Homo sapiens: one gene and its partners. The protein of the gene in region 1 purifies or fractionates together with the protein of each later gene. This does not show direct contact. Each region holds a gene or a part of one and is shown on either strand. Other genes may lie near its edges.

What was found. Proteins that work in one complex are often made in the same cells at the same time.
Region 2: the proteins of MMP7 (region 1) and CNOT6 purify together in Homo sapiens (affinity purification with mass spectrometry; 3 studies listed by BioGRID and IntAct, with this or other methods). This does not show direct contact.
Region 3: the proteins of MMP7 (region 1) and CNOT10 purify together in Homo sapiens (affinity purification with mass spectrometry; 3 studies listed by BioGRID and IntAct, with this or other methods). This does not show direct contact.

What each region holds. Positions count from the first base shown.
Region 1 is NC_000011.10:102,527,745-102,535,306, forward strand, and holds the start of MMP7 (matrilysin preproprotein), read right to left. Parts: upstream 3,004-7,562; 5' UTR 2,957-3,003; coding exon 2,849-2,956; intron 240-2,848; coding exon 13-239; intron 1-12. UniProt on the Homo sapiens protein: Degrades casein, gelatins of types I, III, IV, and V, and fibronectin. Activates procollagenase.
Region 2 is NC_000005.10:180,560,379-180,567,408, reverse strand, and holds part of CNOT6 (CCR4-NOT transcription complex subunit 6), read right to left. Parts: intron 2,921-7,030; coding exon 2,816-2,920; intron 2,735-2,815; coding exon 2,666-2,734; intron 1,590-2,665; coding exon 1,432-1,589; intron 322-1,431; coding exon 167-321; intron 1-166. UniProt on the Homo sapiens protein: Poly(A) nuclease with 3'-5' RNase activity.
Region 3 is NC_000003.12:32,702,188-32,709,217, reverse strand, and holds part of CNOT10 (CCR4-NOT transcription complex subunit 10), read right to left. Parts: intron 5,351-7,030; coding exon 5,256-5,350; intron 4,408-5,255; coding exon 4,246-4,407; intron 549-4,245; coding exon 398-548; intron 1-397. UniProt on the Homo sapiens protein: Component of the CCR4-NOT complex which is one of the major cellular mRNA deadenylases and is linked to various cellular processes including bulk mRNA degradation, miRNA-mediated repression, translational repression during translational initiation and general transcription regulation.

The DNA.
Region 1 (7,562 bases):
AGCAAAACTAACCTGTAGGTGACCACTTTGGAAGTCCATTTTGGGCTATTTGGAAATAGTGAGTATTCTGCAACATCTGGCACTCCACATCTGGGCTTCTGCATTATTTCTATGACGCGGGAGTTTAACATTCCAGTTATAGGTAGGCCAAAGAATTTTTGCATCTCCTTGAGTTTGGCTTCTAAACTGTTGGCATTTTTTGTTTCTGAGTCATAGAGATAAAATCTCTTGAGATAGTCCTATTGAAAAGAGAGTAATTAATCTATAGTTCTTGTTTATTATATTCTTTTATCTTAGAAGCCTATATATCTCTTGCCTTTGGTTCCTGTGAATTCAAATAATGATTTGAAGACAGAATAATTACATAGTCACAGAGAAAAATAAGTGTGCATTAGTGAGGAGAAAATTTAATATTGCTAATGAAGCACTGGCGTGCCATTTCGTGAGCAAAAGAAAAGAATCCCTCAATTTTTAAAAAATCCATTTAAATGTTTTGGGGAGAATTACACTGTACACTTTATAAAGCCTAGAAGTGTGTAAGAGCAATCAGGAAGCATGTACCAGTCTGTCCTCAGGGGTACGACTGGGACATTCTCTGTGTTATCATAGACCCTGTGGGGGAGATCTGAGGTCAACCAGCCCTATCTAAAGTCCAGCTGAGATGCGGTTCCAGCTAAAAGTTAAAGGGTCTTAAAATTTTAGCTCTGGGAAAAGATATTAGGAAATTATTAAATAGTTCAATTTAATAATCCGGTGAAGGAACCAAAGCTTATAGCAACTAAATGATTTATGTGCCCAGGTTCACACCTTAAATTAGTAGCAGAACTGGACTTGACTTTCCTGACTCCTAGGTCCTCTTTTCCCTCTTTCTGCTCATTCCATTCCCAGCCCTTCTTTCTGCTGTTAAATCTCTAGTCAAACCCACTTTGGGAGATTGCAGTATACAGTAGGACTCCCAGGTTTATTCCATGCAAGGTTGGATTCCTGGGAATTTCTCTAAAGTTTCTCAGTATCTGAATATGAGGATAGGAATCCAGCAGCACAAATACAACAACAACAAAAGTGAATGAACTAACAACAATAGCAACCTCACAGGAACATTTTTAAGCACTTACTAGAGCCAGGCACTTACATATTTATTTTATGTAAACCTCATAACCACTCTATGAAACAAGTATGGCATTGTTATCCCTATTTTATACATGAAGAAACACAGCTCAGAGAAGTGAAATAAATTGCACAAGATCACCTTGTGAGTAACTGAAGGAACCAGTATTTGAACTCAAGTGTTCTGACTTCTATACATTAGAAACATGTGTAGGGTTATATGATGCCTGATAATATTGTTGTTAAAATGATTTAAACATTGGCTCACTAATTTGCAGTTTATTTGGAGTAGATGGTAATGGTTACCTGTCTTAGGACCGCCCAGGAATATGCAATTTATGTAAGAAATCTTATTAATATTGTGTCTTTTTTTCCTGTTACCAACAATTGTCTCATTAAATACAACAAATACTTATTGTTCATCCATGACAATTGATAACTGATCCTTTATTTAAAAACAAATAACCCATTTAATCCCTTCTAGAGCTACAGACTTTACCAAGACACCCTCTGGAAGAAATCTCTCTGCTTTGTTGAGATGACTTTTCCTGTTTTTTTGTTAAACCTAGCTAACATCCCTCCAAGTGAAGACTAAGTTTCTGCCAACCTTCACTCTAAGTAAAGAAACTAAACGCAGAGTACTCTTTCTGGAGAATTCATTAGGTGGAACCATATAAAACTACTGTTTTGGAGATTTTAAAAGTTAAATACTAGTAACTTTATGTGGTTCAATCTAACTTATTATAACTGGAACTTTTTAAAAGTCTAAGTTAATGTGAATTAAAAATTGACTTTTCTTATGCTTAAGGCCTAAATTTACAAATAATAGTTATAAGTAATCATCCCATTAGTTAACCAAATAATAATTAGTAGACTGCTTATATTTATTAGACTGCTTATTAAGAAGCATATTGCAAGGAACATGATTTTTGAACCAGAAGCACTTGTCCTTGATTTCTATCTCTACCACTAATAAGTACACTAATCAGTTTAACTTTGGTTTCCTCTTTTTATAGAACTAAGGATTAAATGACACAATGTCTATATAAGTACTTTATAATCTACAATTGTTACATACATGCTAGTTGGTTTTGTTATCACCTCATTTACTTACTAGAATACCCCATGAGGTATAAAACACATAATATTATTTTTTCTACTGGACACATGAGAAAACAAAGTCAGATGTTAATGCCTTGTCTATTGTCATTGACTTGTTGGAGAGTTGTAATTTCTACCCATGTTTTCTGACTTCAGATATCTCCATTACAAACAGTATTGTAAATACACAAACAGTATATTTACAGGTTGTATCTTAAGAGGCAATATTCTGTATACTATAGAAAAAGAATCTCAAGTTATAATAAATAAAAATAAGAACTTAATTTAAACAATGTTTCAGGTATTGTGTTGAATGCTTCACAACACCCTCATTTGGTTGATACCATTCTTATCTCCAACTTCCAAATTGGAAACCTGAAGCTTAGAGAAGTTTGATGACCTTCCTGAGTCTATCTACATAGTGAGTGGAGGGTTGGAACTCAAGCCCGATTTGAGCAGATTCTGAAACCTGCTTTTAATGGCTACTTGATGAAAACATATATTGCTTTTATAATCCGAAGAACCACCCCAAAGAAAATTCCACTGCAATGCTAACATGGGAAGGGAAATAATTGAAAAACACATTTCTTAATGCAGATGGCAAAAGAATGGAACCCTAAGTAAGTGGGCTGTGACATACCTGAGCCTGTTCCCACTGTAGCTCACTCATGCCTCCCGCCTCCTGAGGCAGCGGCAGGGCCAGGCTGCCAGGCAGCAGGCACACAGCACACAGCACGGTGAGTCGCATAGCTGCCGTCCAGAGACAATTGTTCTTGGACCTATGGTTGATTTGGTGTTTTCTGCTAGTGACTGCAGAAATTTATATAGCTTCTCAGCCTCGAATGTGGAAATAGGTGACTCATTTGAGTGTTTTCTTTCTTTTTAGAGTCTACAGAACTTTGAAAGTATGTGTTATTTTTCATTAACTAAAACGAGGAAGTATTACATCGTTATTGGCAGGAAGCACACAATGTATTTGTCTTTCAAAGGATTTTTTTTTCTGTCTGCTGCATAAATTGACTCCATGAGAAACCTCATTTTTTTGCCAAAGTCAAATGACTGCTCTCATAGGTATCATTCAGGACATTATGGTACCATATATTCTTAAAGAATAATATATATTCTTAAATATATATTCTTATTATATGGTACCATGTATTCTTAAATACATGGTACCATATATTCTTAACAATTAAAAGGTTTGGAAAAGTGCACAAAACATGTAAATAATGAAATAATAATTAAGCAAATACTGTAACCGTCACCAAAGTCAAGAAATAGAACATCACCAAAATCCTGTGGTTCTCCATACAGGGGAAAGATGGCAGGAGGCAGATGGAAATGCTGCTGTGTGGCTGGATTAGTGGCCACTCTATATACAACTGTGCTGTGTCCCCTCACCTTCCACGTCCCTTAGCAGAGCAGTGATAATTCCCTTCTTTGGGTCTCCTTTTAATCAGTTTATGTCTTTTCTTAATGGGGAACACTGCCTCTAATTCTTCTTGAATTAAACACAAAAAAATACCAAGCCAACAAAAATCTACAAGCACGGGTTTAACTCTTCATCTGGCTTACTTATTCTGCTTCTCATTTTATAGTAACAGATTCTTCCAAGGCTAGACCTTCAACTTGGAGATCCAATTTTTTTCTTCCAATCACTCTGACTCTGGCTGCTGCCCAGCTACAGGTAGGGCTGCATTGGTCCTTAGTACACAAAATGGTTATTCTACGTATAGCAGTAAGAATCCATTACCTACAGATTCTAGCCCAATGACTCCATTCTTACCAAAAATGAAAGTGAGGCCAAGATGATAATTTAACTTATTATACTTCTCCCAGCTCACACAGATAGTAGCTCAGTGCTTTTTCTATCCCACTGCACTGCCTATTCATTTTGTAATAGGTCTGTCTCTTTTATTATATTATACATTACTTGGGAGAACACCATGGCTTTTGACTCTAATACATCATGGGAAACACTCCAAATATGCTGGAGCTAAAAAATTTAATTAATCACATATCACTTCAATTACATGGTAATTGAGCACTGTGAGCCAGCAAAGGTAAAATTTTCAGATCAGTTAATTAAATTTGCTCTCTTTACAGAGATGTCTTGATTCTGTACGGTCACAGTTTAACTAGAGTAATTGGTATCCTTAGTCAGAGTTTGACATGTGATAAGGTGCACCATAAATATTTGTAGAATAATGAATATTTATGAACTTTACTTGAATAAGCTAAAAATGGAATTATATCACGTTTTTGGTAATATTTGCATTGAATTAAAATCAAAAGGCATTTCCTCAAGTGAATGAGCACACAAGCCACAAATTGGGTGAAAATGAATGCAAAGACACATCCATGGCCAGGCGCGGTGGCTCACGCCTGTAATCCTAGGACTTTGGAAAGCTGAGGCCAGTGGATTGCCTGAGGTCAGGAGTTTGAGACAAGCCTGGGAAACATGGCAAAACCCTGTTTCTAATAAAAATACAACAATTAGCCAAACATGGTGATGCGTGCCTGTAGTCCTAGCTACTCAGGAGGCTGAGGCACGAGAACTGCTTGAACCTCAGAGGCAGAGGTTGCAGTGAGCTGAGATCACTCCACTGCACTCCAGCCTGGGTGACAGAGGGAGACTCTCTCTCTCTCTCAAAAAAAAAAAAAAAAAAAAAAAGACATATCCAATAAAGGACTGTTATCCAAAATATACAAGTATCTTTTAAAACTCAACAATAAAAACACAAACAATCTGATTTTAAAGATGGGCCAAAAACCTTAACAGTCATCTTACCAAAAAAGATATACAGATAGTGAATAAGCATATGAAAATATTCTTCACATCATATGTCATTGGGGAAATGCAAATCAAAACAGTAATGAGATACCACTACTTACCAATTAGAAAGGCCAAAATCCAGAACGCTGACAGTGGCAATTGCAGGATGTTTTAGTGGAAATGAAAAATGGTACAGCCACCTTGGAAGACAGTTTGATGGTTTCTTTCAAAATGAAACATACTTTTACAATATGATTCAGCAATGGTGCTCCTTGGTGTTTACCTAAAGGAGATAAAAATAAATGTTTACACAAAAACATACATATAGATGTTTATAGTAGCTTTATCCATAATTGCCCAAACTTGGAAACAACCAAGATGTCGTTCAGTAGGTGAATGAATACATGTACTGCGGGACATCCAGGCAATGAAATATTATTCAGTGCTAAAAAGAAATGAGCTGTGAAACCATGAATAAACATGGAAGAATCTTAAATGCATGTTATTAAGTGAAAGAAGCAATCTGCGGGGCTACTTAGTGTATGATTCGAACTATGTAACATTCTGGAAAAGGCAAAAATAGGTAAAAATATCAGTAGTTGTGTGGGCTGGACGTGGGATAGGCAGGATGAATAGGCAAAGCACAGAGAATTTCTGGGGCAGTGCATCTACTCTGTACAATACTGTAATGGTGGATTCATGTCATTTTGCATTTGTCCAAACACATAGAATGTACAACATCAAGAGTGAACACAAATGCAATGGACTTTGGGTGATTATGATGTGTCAGTGTAGGTTCATCAATTGTAACAAATATAGGCTGGGCACGGTGGCTCACGCCTGTAATCCCTGCACTTTGGGAGGCCGGGGCAGGCGGATCACCTGAGGTCAGGAGTTTGAGGCCAGTCTGGCCAACATGGTGAAACCCTGTCTCTACTAAAAGTACAAAAATCATCCAGGTGTTGTGGCAGGTGCGTGTAATCCCAGCTGCTCAGGAGGCTGAGGCAGGAGAATCACCTGAACCCAGGAGGTGGAGATTGGAGTGAGCCGAGATCACGCCACTGCACTCTAGCCTGGGCAATACAGTGAGACTCTGTCTCAAAAAAACAAAACAAAACAAAAAAAATACACACACACACAGAAACAAATGTACCTCTCTGGTGAGGGATGTTGATAATGGGGGAGGCTATGCATGTGTGGGGGCAGGAGGTATATGGGACATCTCCGTACTTTCCTTTCAATTTTGCTGTGAACTTAAAACTGCTTTAAAAAAATAAAGTCTTAAAAAAGGTATTTTCTAGATTTTGTATTTTACATTTCTGTTTACTTTTAGCAATTCAAAGAGCATTAGAAATTACAAACACTTTAAATTAATTTTAGTGACTTCCTTCAATATTCACTCTTGAATAAGGAGAAAGAAATCTCTTGTTCATCTAAATTGTAATTAGGAAAAAAGACCCAGTGGAATCAAGTCCCAGTTCCAGCCTTTAGAAGCTCGTGCTCTAGGGTGGCAATATCGGGAGGTAAATACTTTTAAAACAAAATGACACTCGCTTATAATATGCAAAGCTACCAAAGAGAAGGGAACAGTTAATCCTTCTTGTGGGAACTGAGGAGTAATCCATACAAGAGGTGGCATTTTGGCTGGATTTTGGAGGGTAAATAGGAGTTCCCTTGGAAAAGGGCATTCCAGGAAGAAGACATGGGAAAAGAGCATGGATACAGTAGAGCGAGCAGTCAATGTGGCTGTGGTCCGGGATGGTGAGTGGTTGGAAAAGCAGGTGGGGGTCAAGTTGTTGAGAGCGAGCCTCGTGTGCCAGGGAGTTTGGACTTTATCCCAAGGGCATCAGGGAATGTTTTAAAGGAAGAAAGCAGCATGATGAGATTTGAAATGCTGTAAGAAAATGCTACTGGTGGTTGTAAAGACAGATTGTGGAAGATGAGATGATGCCCTCTAGAGGGATACTGGAGAGGCAGATAGACCAAGCAAAAAGTTATGACAATAATCCAGGTGAGACAGGGGGAAGATGAGTCCCTAAACTAAGATTGTGACCATAGTGATGAAAAAGAGGAAGGAAATCCAAGACGTATGTAGAAGGTAGGATTGATAAAAACAAAACAAAACAAAACCAAAACTGGGGAGATGATTGGCTGCAGGAATGAGAAGAAAATCAAGGATGATCTGAGCCTAATAGACTTGGTGGGTGGTCAAGCTGTTAATATGGAAACATGGCTTATAGGAAAAGAAACTAGGAGTTGATTTTGTGAGGGAAACAGATGTGGTCGTGGGAAAGTAAAGACATCATGGACATCCTGGACATCGGGTTCAAGGTTTCAGCTGGAAATTGGGTCTGGAGCTAATGAGAGTGATCTGGTCCATAGGTTATGAGTGACTTATTTTTAAGGAAGGAAACTATGTTTTCTTAACTGGTAAAATATACATCATATAAAATTTACCACTTTAACCATTTTAAGTGTACAATTGAGTTTCATTAAGTACATTTACAACGTTATATAATTATCACCAATATCCATTTCGAGAGCTATTTTGCCATCCCAAAGAGAAACTCTGTATCCA
Region 2 (7,030 bases), on another chromosome or scaffold:
TTCTGATGATTAAAAACAAACAAAAACCCCCTAGGTCAAACAGTATTCTTTGCTTCAGTAATAATATAGTGCCTCATTCTCTCATTTGCCAATTAGTTTCCACACCCTTGGCCCCCACCCTGCAAATACTGAGAAAACGTTCTTTTTAAAAAATAAGATGACTTACTTTTCTGTCTTGAAGAATATTGCACAGCCATCAACATGTTTCCTTTCTTGTTCTGACATTGTCCTAGCTCTAGACTTAGGACTGAAGAATCCATTATAGCCACGTTCTTTCAGCTCTACCAGAAAAAAACTGTAATACTGTTCCGTTTCAACCTCCTGAAAAGTTGTAAACAGCACAGTTATTTCATAAGACAAAAATTAGTCTGCATATTAACTTCTATGTATAGTTTGAGAGCTTGAAATAATTTCAAAGGACTGGTCTGCAGATTAAAGAATGTAACATCTTTCCGGGCCGGGCATGGTGGCTCATGTCTGTAACCCCAGCACTTTGAGAGGCCGAGGCGGGCGGATCACTAGAGCCCAGGAGTTCCAGACCAAGCCTGGCCAACATGGCGAAACCCCATCTCTACTAAAAATACAAAAATTAGCCAGGCATGGTGGTGCATGCCTGTAATCCCAGCTACTACGGAGGCTGAGAATCACTTGAACCCAGGAGGCGGAGGTTGCAGTGAGCTGAGATCATGCCACTGCATTCCAGCCTGGGGGACAGAGAAAGAGCCTGTCTCCCCACCACCCAAAAAAAAAAAAAAAAAAAAAAAAAAAGTAACATCTTTTCAACACTATTTATCTGAAACCAACTGGAACAGCGACTTGTCATTTTACAGGTACTAGGTACCAAGGGCAACTCATTGTTGTTTAAGAACAGTGAGTGAAAGACACACTTCTATGCATGTGTATTTCCTTATGTCTTAGAACTGAGGTGGAACAAGAACCACAGAGGTCGACGAACTTTACAAATCATAACTTCAGACCCTTGGGCAGAAAGTAACATGTTCAAGATCATATGAGTGACTATGAGAGTTGCACTGAGAACCCAAAATGTTCGTGTACCAAGTCAGTCCTTTTTACACGGTGCCTTAATTGTTCTAGCAACATGGTCGGCAATGCAAGTTATAGCTTGACCACGCTAGAATTTCAGTAACTTTGCCACCCAATTCAAAAATAGTGCAGGGACGCTGGAGGGAGGAGGAAGGTGAGTATTTAGCGGTCATGGCAAACGCATAAATCCCAGCTTAACACATTTGCCTATTTTGCAACATAGCACTGCAAAGCAAAGCAGGCAGTACTCCCAGGATTCACTAATAACAGAAAAAAGCAGTACTTTAAGAACTACTGAAGCTAAAACTTCAAATGTGTCAGCGTAATGTATTCCTAGTTGCTCCTTCCTTTATCAATGCTAGGTTGACTGTCTTCTGTCTGACTTACCTGAAGACTTACGATATCAGCATTGCAGCTCAAGATTTCTTGAATAATGGCCTTTTTCCTGTAGTCCCAGTTTAGCGCCCATGATGGACAGTAGCCGTATAACTGCCGGGTCGCATATTTATCACAAAGAACATTATAGCACATGACAGAAAACAAGGCTGTAGGAAAGATAACTTTACTTATTCACACATGTGGCAGAAAAAAATATATAATTAATTTCAGTAATGGTTTTCACTTAAATGTTAAGTTTGACCGTATTCATTCAATCTATAGTCACTGAAAAGCTACTGTACGCCACATATGGGGGATAAATAAAAGACGGATAATGCAAGCAGGATAGATAAGTGAACAAGTTAGAATACAATGTACTACCTGCTACAGAGGTAGGCACAGAAGGTCTGGAAGTGAAAAGTCTAAGCTCGTGAGCCCTTCAGTCTCTGAGCCTAACATTCCTCATTTCTATACTCCTTCTACCATGCTACCAACTGTTAATGTAAGATGTGGAAACTGGATAGGTAGTATCCTTAATAGGCATGCCTCATTTTCTTCTACAGCACAACTATTGTTAATTCATGCAAAATGAAAACGGTATCACAGACCAAATTTTGTTACACGCACCATGAAAGCTCCCAAACTATTTACATAGAATTTAGGTTAAAAGGAGATGAGCAGTCATTAGTTCCACTTTCCTCTAAGTAAGGGTTTGGCTCTCTTATAACTCGGTAGTGTCAAATCCATTTGGAACATGCTAGGATTTGGAAACTTCTCATAGAGAAAAATTTGGGTGTATTCATTTTAAGTGAATTTCATCAGTACACTACAGAAGGGTTTCTCAACCAGAGTCGCACTACTGACATTTCAGGTGAAGTCTGTTGTGGGGGCCTGTGCCGTGTACTATAGAATGCTGAGCAGCAACCCTGGCCTCCATCCACCAGACGCCAGCAGCACTTCTCCCCAGTTACGACCATCAAAATTGTCTCCAGACATTGCCAAATGTCCTCTGGGGGATAAACTGCCCGTTTGAGAAGCACTGCTTTATAGCACACTTTCTATATAGCACAATGTAGTATACATAGAGGTCATGTGAGCAAGAATTCTTTTTTATTACCTCCCAAACCAAACCAACCTTAAACATTTTGTCTTAATGCTACCTGTAATCTAAGCATGCTGACAATACTGTTAGGCTTATAGAGACTGAGCAAAAATAACAGTTAAAAAATAAAAGACTACCAACCAGTTGGCCTTGTCCTATCTGGTTCTTGTAACATAATCCAAGACCTTGGAGGTGGTTGTTCTGTTGTAACTAGTTGAATAGAAAATACAGAATTAAGCAATATTCTTACACGTCTTCCTAATAAAAAGGTTTAAACAAATAACCACTTACTTCTTTTTGCAGTACCTGACAAATTATCAAGCAAATAGTTCAGCAGCCGTCTTGTTCCATCTGGTTCCTGATAAAGGTTCAATATATCCTGGGTAAGGGGATTTCCTGGAAATATTTTTGAAATAAGTAAAATGAAACTAAGTAATAAAATGTTTCAAAATTTTAAAATGTATCAAAATTATCAGATCATCCATAACTATGTTATAGTTACTAGTAAGATGTCAGACTATAGAAAATATTGTTTTTTCAGTTTCTGATATAAGTAAAAATGATTCATACCATGTTCTATATACACATTCAAAACATAATGTTAATGGGCTGATGTCAATCAGAAATGCACTAGCAGTGCTCTATATCTGACCCTGCCTTGCCAACACTTTCAATAATACAGATGGTTATAACAAACAAGAGTGAGCAAAACACGAACGGGGCAGGCAGGTGACTGGGAGAGTGGGTGGGCAGAGGAAACAGTGAAGGGAAGGATGAAAGCCAGCGTAATGCATCAGAGAATCAAAACTCTACAATGTCACAAAGCTAACAACAAAACACCCTAATGACAAATATACACTTGCACTTAGATTTTTTAAAGTCATACTGAACAAAGCAACAAAATGGGGCTGACTTGGCTTAAGAATTAACTCACTAAGGAGGGGGAAAAAATCCCAGGGCCATGAGCCATCTGTAAATTCAATAACTGCTTTGTTCCAAAATGAGAGCAAAAACAATGATTTACATATACCTACAAGAATCTCAAATCCTCTCAGAAGGGTTTCTTATGTACATGAGAAATAAAAGTACAAATAACAACAGTGCAGCGCAGGGTTTCATGGAGCAAAGTTCCTATCCATCCTACACAAGCATTGTGTATTATTCTGGATGCCACAGCGCCATTTTAAGAAAACCAGACAAATTCTGCAGTTTGAAGAAGGCAGATAAAATGGTCAAAGATGTTAACCATACCAAATGAAGAAAAACTAAAGGATATGGTAGATAAGAATGATCAAAACCTAAAGGAAGTGTTTTTTCCTATTCTCTCATAAAAGACTGGACTCAAAGAGCAGAAGGAAGACATGCCTGTAATCCCAGCACTTTGGGAGGCCGAGGCGGGCGGATCACGAGGTTAGGAGATCGAGACCATCCTGGCTAACACGGTGAAACCTCGTCTCTACTAAAAATATAAAAGAAAAAAAAAGCAAAAACAAACAAAAAAAAACAGCCAGGCGTGGTGGCGGGCGCCTGTAGTCCAGCTACTCAGGAGGCTGAGGCAGGAGAATGGCGTGAACCTGGGAGGCAGAGCTTGCAGTGAGCCAAGATCGCGCCACTGCACTCCAGCCTGGGCAACAGAGCGAGACTCTGTCTCAAAAAAAAAAAAAAAAATTTAACAGGAAAGGCCAAGGCCGAATAGAAGAGGTTGGCAAACACTGTTAACTATTTGAGACACCCTGTGCTGTGAGGCAGTGGAGTATCCTTCAAAGAAGCTGAGTTGCATGGATGGGAAAAATGGCAAAGTTCATTTATCTTTAAGATCTTTCGGTTTTAAGATTCTAGGATTCTAAGAATTATAAAAAGAAAAATGTGCTGCTCTAAGTGCAAAGTAGGTATTTGCAGGAAGGCAATTACAAGAGTACCATTCTCTCACGTGTGTGTGGTTCTTTATACCCACCACAGCCTTTTCATGTTTTCACTGAGTCACAATCCCGTGAGATAAGCAGTTACAACCTGAAGCTTATCAGGACCCTTTGTGAAACACATCTTGAGAAAATGAAGTCAACTGAAAACTTCTCGGTATCAGGTAAACAGCTCATTCTAACCAGACCTACAGTGATGCTGTTTTCTTTTTCTTATTTTTTTTTTGAGATGGAGTCTCGCTCTGTTGCCCAGGCTGGAGTGCAGTGGCACCATCTCGGCTCACCGCAAGCTCCGCCTCCCGGGTTCACGCCATTCTCCTGCCTCAGCCTCCCAGGTAGCTGGGACTACAGGCAGCTGCCACCATGCCCGGCTAATTTTTTGTATTTTTAGTAGAGACAGGGTTTCACCGCATTAGCCAAGATGGTCTCAATCTCCTGACCTCGTGATCCACCCGACTCGGCCTCCCAAAGTGCTGGGATTACAGGTGTGAGCCACCGCGCCCGGCCAGGACTTCTTTTAAATTGAAAATTAATCTGCTCTTCACTACTTGGAAACAGAAAACAATATATATGAATAAAGTCAATAACAATAAAATTCTGGAATTAAAACTATACTGAGTCCTGAGAAAGAACAAAAAAGTAAATGAGAAGTTACTTTAGGGTAGATGGAGTAAAAACACTTTTCCCTATTCTTCCCACTAGGTACAACTAAAAGCACTGTATATTATGTGTAAAGCAAACACAAAACTCTGAAAAAAGGAGAGAAGGCAGAATAGCCAAAGACTGCAGGACCTGACGAACGGCACAGGGATGAGTTCCCTGGGTTCACTTTTTGCCTCAGATATGCCAGACATGCAGCTAAGAAGCCAGTAACATGGAAATACCAATGGGTACAGACCCAAAAGAATCCCAACAAAAGCCAAAGGACCAGGGAAGGGCTGCCTAAAAGGACAAAAGTTTTAGATAAGAACCACTGTACTCAAGCTTAACACTAAAGAAAAAAACGTGGTCCCATCTCTACCCATGCCAGCATGAGCAAGTGGAGAGGCTGGTAGACTTCTGCTGCAAGAGAAAGAAAGGAGGCGATATGGAGCTCCCTTCCTCCCTCTGAGGTGGTGTCAGAGGAGGCCAAGGAGAGTCAAGACTTTCACCATCTCCCTGCAATAAAGAGGACACGCCAGTGCGGTGCCTGTGGAGGCCGCGTGAAGAGCCAAAACTACCACCTCCACCAGAAGCAACGAGGAGCCCCCACTCCCAGGTGTCAGCGAAGGCCAAGTGGAACCTGAACTTCTACCTCCACTGGCAGTAAGGAGACAGTGCCTGGTTCCCTTGTCACAGCAGTGCTAGGCAAAGAAAACCAAACTAAAGGGTTTAAACAAGATCTAGAGTTTCATAACATGAGTGAGTCCAGTTTCAAATGAAAATAGCTCATCACACCAAGACACGAAGATATCAAATGCAAAAAGATAAACACAACTTCCAACCCTGAGATGACAGAAACAGAATTACCCAACCAAGACAAAGGAATCATGACAAAAATGCTTCAATGAGAAATTAAAAACATGCTTGAAAACACACACACACACACACACACACACACACACACACAAAACACACAAGAAAACAGGAAGACTGAGCAAAGAAACAAAGTTCAGGCAAATAAAACATTTAAAACCAAATGGGAATATTAGAACTGAAAAATAAAATAAATGAAGGCTAGGCACAGTGGCTCATGCCTATAATCCCAGCACTTTGGAGGCTGAAGCAGGAGGATCACTTGAGGCCAGGAGTTCGAGACCAGCTTTGTTAACATGGCAAAATCTCGTCTCTACAAACAAACAAACAAAACTAGCCAGGCATGGTGGCACATGCCTGTGGTCCCAGCTACTTGGGAGGCTGAGGTAGGAGAGCTGCTTGAGCCTGGGAGGTCAAGGCTGCAGTGAGCCAAGATCGTGCCACTGCACTCCAGCCCGAGACCTCGTCTCTTGATTGACTGATTGATTGATAGATAGATAAGAACACAGACCAACACCACCACCACCACCAACAACAACAAAAAGAACAAAGTCTCTGGGGCTTGTGGGACTATAACAAAAGATCTAACATTCATGTCATCAGAGCCTTGGACGCTGAGGACACGGAGGACAGGGCTGAAAAAGTACTCAAAGCAATAATGGCTGAAGATTCTCACAATATGGCAATAAATATAAACCAACAGATTCAAGAAGCACAGTGAACCCCTACACAAGAAAAACCCAAAGGAATCCACAGCAAGACACATCATAATTAAACTTCTGAAAACTAAAGACAAAGAAAAAACATCTTGAAAGCAGCCGGAGAAAAATGACACCTTACCTGCAGGAGAAAAACAAATTGGAATGACGAAAGATTTGTCATGATAAGCCATGGAAGCCAGAAGGAAGCAGCAAAATATTTTTCAGGTGTCGAAAGAACTGTCAAACCCAGATTCTTATATCCAGTGAAAACATCCTTCAGGAATGAAGGAGAAATAAAGACAATCTCAGAGGACAAAAAACTAACAGAATCTGCTGCCAGCAGATCTACCCAAAGGGAACCACTAGAAAAA
Region 3 (7,030 bases), on another chromosome or scaffold:
TAATTACCACCAAAAATTTCAGTAAGGCAAAGGGCAAAAATGAAATACCTCACTGTCCCCTAACATTCCAAAATGCTACTTCCTTAATGTACTAAAGTAAGAAAGGATCAGGTACACTAAAATAGTGTTGAAACAGCAAAAACCCCACAAACATCACTAAGTGTTTTCAGCACTTTCCAACAGCATTTTTAACAGTTATCTTCAAAATTTGGGAAGGGACACTCAAAGAAAACCTGGATTACATTTTTATCTTTTCTAACCATTAAGCAAAGCTGATACGGCTTTTCTTTGAATACTGGCATGGACTTCTCGGATTTAGGTTATCTAGGTAAAAGTACCAGAGAATTCTGCAAGTATAGGGAAGATAGGGAAATTTTTGACTTGACAGATAACATACCAAAAGGCTCTATGAACTGATAAAGTTTTTCACCAACTGATATGGCTTCTGTATACTGCCGCAGATGATAAAGAATGACTGCTTGATTATAGTACAACATGCTGTTTTCAACATCATCTAATCCATCCATTTCTTCAACAGCTGAGTGGACCTATAAAGCAATCAACAGAGGTTATATTTTAACATTAAGGAAATAAAAAGCAAAAGTGAAAGAATTCATATGAATAAAAAGGAACATAGGCCAACATTCTTATTCTGAATTTTTCCATACTTTCAACAGTATCTTTAGATTTTAATTACTCTCACATACTAAAAATTATTTTCATTCTTCTGTGCCACACATAATAAAATTTTAGGTAAAATGTTTTCATGAGACTTTATTAAGTACCCAGCACATGGCTAGACAATTATCTTCCTTGTCACTGTGAAGCTATCTTCCCTGTTTCAATTGGTAACACCACTTCTGAGTAGGATTCCCATCTCCTAGTCTCACAACCTACAAGAGGCTACACCAGGCGTGCAACAAACTCAAAATGACCTTTCCCATAAAAATGTCACGTAGTATTCATAGTTTGATTTCATTTTGTAAAAACTAAGGTAAAATTTAAACATTAATAATAGCTGGCCGGGCGTGGCAGCTCATGCCTGTAATCCCAGCACTTTGGGAGGCCGAGACAGGCAGATCACTTGAGGTCAGGAGTTTGAGACCAGCTTAGCCAACATGGTGAACCCCGTCTCTACTAAAAATACAAAATACAAAAAAAAAATTTAGCTGGGTGTGGTCGCACGTGCCTGTAGTCCCAGCTACTCGGGAGGCTGAGGGAGGAAACTTGCTTAAATCCAAAAGGCAGAGGCTGCAGTGAGCCAAGATCACATCACTGCACTCTAGCCTGAACAACACAGCGAGACTCTGTATCAAACAAAACAAAAATAGTTAACTATTTACCATGTGCCAGACTTGCTATGTTAAAACTTTTACAGGTTAATCCTCACCATACCTCAAGGTCATAGATAATTTTTTTTTTTTTGAGATGGAGTCACCCAGGCTGGAGTGCAGTGGCACGAACTCAGCTCAGTGTAACCTCCACCTCCAGGGTTCAAGTGATTCTCCTGCCTTAGCCTCCTGAGTAGCTCGGACTACAGGCATGCACCACAACACCTGGCTAATTTTGTATTTTTAGTAGAGATGGGGTTTCACCATGTTGGCCAGGCTGGTCTTGAACTCCTGACCTCAGGCGATCTGCCCACCTCGGCCTCCCAAAGTGCTTGGATTACAGGCATGAGCCACCGCACCTGGCCGAGGACATAGATAATTTCATTTCCACTTTATACATAAGGAAACCAGCACAGAAAACTTAATTATCTTGCCCAAGGCCATAGGGCTAGAAAGTATATTTTCAGGTTTCGTTCCCGTAAAAAAGAATAGATTTTTTTAAAGTACTCAATAATAAAAATATATTATTGCACACATGATGGTTAGAAAAGGCTTTTATGGGCTTCACTAAAGGCTAACATCTGTAACTGACACAAAAGAAAAAAAAAAAAGCATGACACTTTGCATTCTCAAACTGTATACCCCCTTATGTAAGCTGTAGCAATGGGCTTTTAAATTTTAATCAAGCTTTACAACCATTGCACAATTCCATGTAACACATGAAACTGGAAGTCTACTTGTATTAAAACTAACCTTTGCCATTATGAAGATTGCAATAAATTATTGTTCAATATTAAGTAATTAACTCTAAGACCAACACTTCCATAGAACTCTGATATACAGTACATGGATTTAACAGCCTTGGTTTGACTAATGGCAAGGAACCTGAAGGTTCACTACACACAATGAATTGTAAATTTTGTAACTGGACTTCAGCAGACGTCAACCACCCACGTGGTTAAGCTTGACATGGTTCAAATGTTAGCAAGTGGTCCTAGCTGACCAACATGTGCATCTCAATGAGTTTGGGAACTTTTTATAATCTTCACTTATCAAGTCACTATCTTAAAGAGATTAAAAACAGTATCTTCAAACAGTGAAAACTCAATTTCCAAAGGCAACTCTTTCTGTAGTTATGTAATGGAGAGAGACTGAGTTAAGAAGAGTTTAGCCAGAAAAGCTTTTAGATAAACTATGGCGTTTTGGATTCAGCAATGGTTGAATAATTATCACACAAATAACTTTGCCACATATTCTATGACTCACCAAAATAGTCTAGTAACTGCTCCAGCCAAAAGAAAAACTACTCATTAAGTGAAATTAGACGTTTGCTAATTAAAATGGAATAGGTTGAAAAGGTGTGTCACTGTGCCCGATGTGACTGCGAACAGAAGTATGATTTAAAGAAGTCAGTAACCACAAGTACAAACACTTCTAGGAAACTCAAGAGTTGGAAGGCCCTAACAAACCTTATAAACAATAAAAGCTAGTGAAAGAACTTCACAAAGTTTTTTTGGCCTAACTGGAAGTTTGCAGGAATTGCTTATTCAAAAAAAGTTTAAAGGCTGAACTTATTCTCAAAAACCAAACAAATTTGTCTTGGAAGAAACTGTCTATGGGGTCATAGGGTGCATGTACTAGATTATCAGTAAGCATCATCTTTCTTTTGATTCTGGAACACTAGATAAAATCATCAGTAATAATACTGGAGTAATGAGGAAACGTGAGGACATACAAATTTATGAAGACTGAGACAGGTAGGAGAACAGGCTCAAGAGTCAGAAGGCCTGGTTTAAATCTGTTCTTCCCCTTCCTAGTTGTGTAAATTTAAATTAGACTTCCTAAATTCTGGTTTTAAAACTGAGATAATAAGCACCTACTGCCTCAAGAGTTGAATGTGAGGATTATATGAGATAAGGCATAAAAGGCACTTAATACAGAATTTGGCACCCAGTATGCATTCAATAAATGGTAGCTATTATTCTCATTTTTGAATTTTAATGGGGTTTAAAAATTACTTTATGCCTATAAAGGATTACAGAGAGCCTGAAGGGACAACTTGCTTCTCTACCTGTGTCACACTTTAGGGTGATACTATAGAGTATCATGGTACTCATGATTACAGGAAAGGTCTCATGACTCCCTAACAGCATGAAGCAGTAACTAAAATTACAGGCTATAGAGTTAAATACAACTGAGTTCATGTAGCTCTTACTACTCAAAAACTTTGTGTTTTTGGACAATTTACACAGCTATCTGTGCCTTGGCTTTTCCACTTTTAAAATAAGAAAAATTATATAGCTATTTCATAGGGCTACTGAGAAGAACAAGCTGAGAAGTTGCATACAAGCGCTTGGCAGAGCCCTGTCACACAGTGAACACTTAACATATGCTAGCTGATCCTATCAGCACCATCACTGTTATCAGCCCTCTTGAACACCAAAAGTCTAGCCCCAGGATTCAAGAAACATTGCCATTATCACCAGACCAATCCCCAATTCAAGCCCCAAGCCAGATACAAAGCAGAATATCTTCTATTTAATCAATCATCTCCTGATCCAAATGCTAAAACGACTTGACATTAGGATTAATCATATTTTTTTCATTATAAACAAGATATATCTCCACAGCTAAGCTTCTTCATATAGTTCTTTCTCAAAACTCCAAAGCTCATTCAAATTTGGTATATTAGTCTATTCTGTTCAAGTTCATTAAAACCCCAATTAAAAAAAATGATCCCACAACATACCTTTTATCTCCTGGAATAATAATTTTACGGAAATAAAATTAATGCTAACAAATGTTTCTGACAAGAAATACCAGACAAATCACATTTATTTTCCTTAACTATTTGTGTTTCATAAATTAAAGAACAGAACAATATTTTTTATAGTTAAATTCATTTATGTATCACCTGATTCTTCAGCTGGTTAAGTGTTTGTCTCAAATTATCTGTTGTTGTTTGGTTACTTTTAAAAAACTCAGCTACTGCTGTATTCAAAATTATTTTATAATCATCTTTGTTTATATCTTGTAGACAGGCAAGGTGTTGTAGACAGGCATCATAATTTCCAGACTAAAAAAAAAAAACCACACACACACACACAAAATTACATACCAGCTTTAAATACAGTATATCATTCCAAATATATTTCATTCATCTTTATCTTAAAAGTTCTTAAAAAGAAAGATGTAGTTTCCCTACATATACTAATCAAAGTCACTAAAGCAACATTCATGTCAGTTAAACTGTGGATATTTACTTCCTAAGACTCAAAACCCTGACATTGACACATATAAGACACATATATTGATATGATAAATATACTGGCATATACATATAGTGCTAGCAGGGTATTAATGGCTGAGGCTAGTCAAGAAAGGTAATATAATCACTCCAAATTTTATTTTCTAGTAAATATATTTTAAATACCCAAGCATCAAGTTCTTCTGCTTACATGCACGTAACCTGATAACCAAATAAGGTTTTCTTTCATATTGTTTAATGCCAGAAAAAGTTAAAATTCTGCCAATAAAGTTTTGGGGTTCCATTTTAAAGTACCTTCAAGAAAATAATTTTTGAATCTGATATTTTCAGAAATAAATAAATAAAAGAATTGAACAGCTTAGTGAAATGAAAAGACTGACCCACATACTTACAAATCTAAATTTAAAAGACTTAAAAACAACAGTATATGAGTTAAAACATGTTTACAAAAACTTGGGAATGGCTCCAATTATTCCCATTCCTTTCACCATATTTAAACTCTAAAACATTTATTTTAAAAATTAAACCTACTTATCTCTAAATTAACTTTTGAATTATTACAGAGTAAAAATTGTAAATTTAAAAATTCACTATGAAAAGATTCATACTTGACAGAACCCTACAACTTGAGCAGACTAAGAGAAGCCATTTCTTACTGTGAAAGCTTGGAAAGCATTGGTGGATAACTCCTTCTCTTGATCAGTGATCCCAGAGGACTGACCTGTGCCTTCATGTTTCTCTGCTCCCTGATCTGCAAACACACAAATTTTACAGTTCTTTAGAAATAAAAGTTGTACAGTGGTCCCTCCTTATCCAGTTTCACTTTCTGCAGTTTCAGTTACCCAAGGTCAAGTATGAAAATATCAGATGGAAAATTCCAGAAATAAGCAGTTCTTAAGTTTTAAACAGCAATGTTCTGAGTAACATGATGAAATCTCTTGCCATCCTGCAGTGTCCCGCTCTGTCCCATCCAGGAAGTCAATCATTCCTTTGTCTAGCATTCCATGTTGTATAAGATACCTCCCCCTTGGACACACAGTAGCCATCTTGGTTATCAGATCAATAGGTCACAGGAAGAAAGGTGAGTAGGGTACAGTAAGATATTTTGAGAAAGAGAAACCACATTCAGATAACTGTTATTTTATTACTGTTGTTGTTAATCTCTTACTGTGCCTCATTTATAAACTTTATCATAGTTATGTACGTATTAAAAAAAGCAGTACATAGGTTCAGTACTATCTGTGGTTTCAAGTATCCACCGGAGGACCCTGAATGTATCTTCTGAGGAAAAGGTGGGGGACTACTGTATAGTGAATTTGTCCCTAGTTTTCATCTTGTGTTCTTCCTAATAAAGTGGCCAAAGTTAGGGCTCTCTCAACAATAACTGATTAATGTTGCCAGGCACGGTGGCTCACGCCTGTAATCCCAGCACTTTGGGAGGCCAAGGCGGGCACATCACAAGGTCAGGAGATCGAGACCATCCTGGCTAACACGGTGAAACCCCGTCACTACTAAAAATACAAAAAAAAAAAAAAAAAAATTAGCTTGGCGTGGTGGCGGGCGCCTGTAGTCCCAGCTACTTGGGAGACTGAGGCGGGAGAATGGCGTGAACCTGGGAGGTGGAGCTTGCAGTGAGCCAAGATAATGCCACTGCACTCCAGCCGGGGCGACAGAGTAGGACTCCGTCTCAAAAAAAAAAAAACAACAAAAAACAATGACTGATTAATGTTATAAGCTAATAAGAAGCTACTCCTCTGAAAGCTTGAAAAGGTTCCTATGGCCAAGTTGAAACACAATGAAAACCTGCCCACTTAAATAAAGACCACAAGCCCTGTAGATGAGGACATTCAAGCTGAGAATATTGTGCTCTTTAAAAAATATTAGATCTGCCACCCAGCAATATACAGTCCCACATATTCAAGCAACTATGGCAGGTGCTGGAGATATAAACACACCTACGATGGCTTTAAGAGATTTATAATTTAGTTGGAAAGTAGTAACAATCAGAAAACTACACTGATAAGGGCTTACAGCTAATTTCCAGGCAAGGAATATTTTCATAGGCTCAGAAATCCAAAATATTAACACATTTAAAAAGTTTCTTTAATATGTTAAGTGTCCATATAAATTCACAGTAAAGGTTAATAATCTGTTTAGCTGGGAAAACTACCTCCTACCTCTATAATTTGCTATTTTAAATATTAGATGTTTTGCTTTTTGTTTTAATTTGAAAATAGAATTCCAAAATAAAGGTAAAAATCTCAGCTGAACCAAACCTAAACTACTCAGAGCAAAAGTGTGTTAAGTACTCTAACAAATGCTTCAATACTTTTTATAGTTCTCTCAAGAGTCACTGTTGGCTGGGCGTGATGGCTCATGCCTATAATCCCAGCTACTTGGGAGGCTGAGGCACGAGAATTGCTTGAACCTG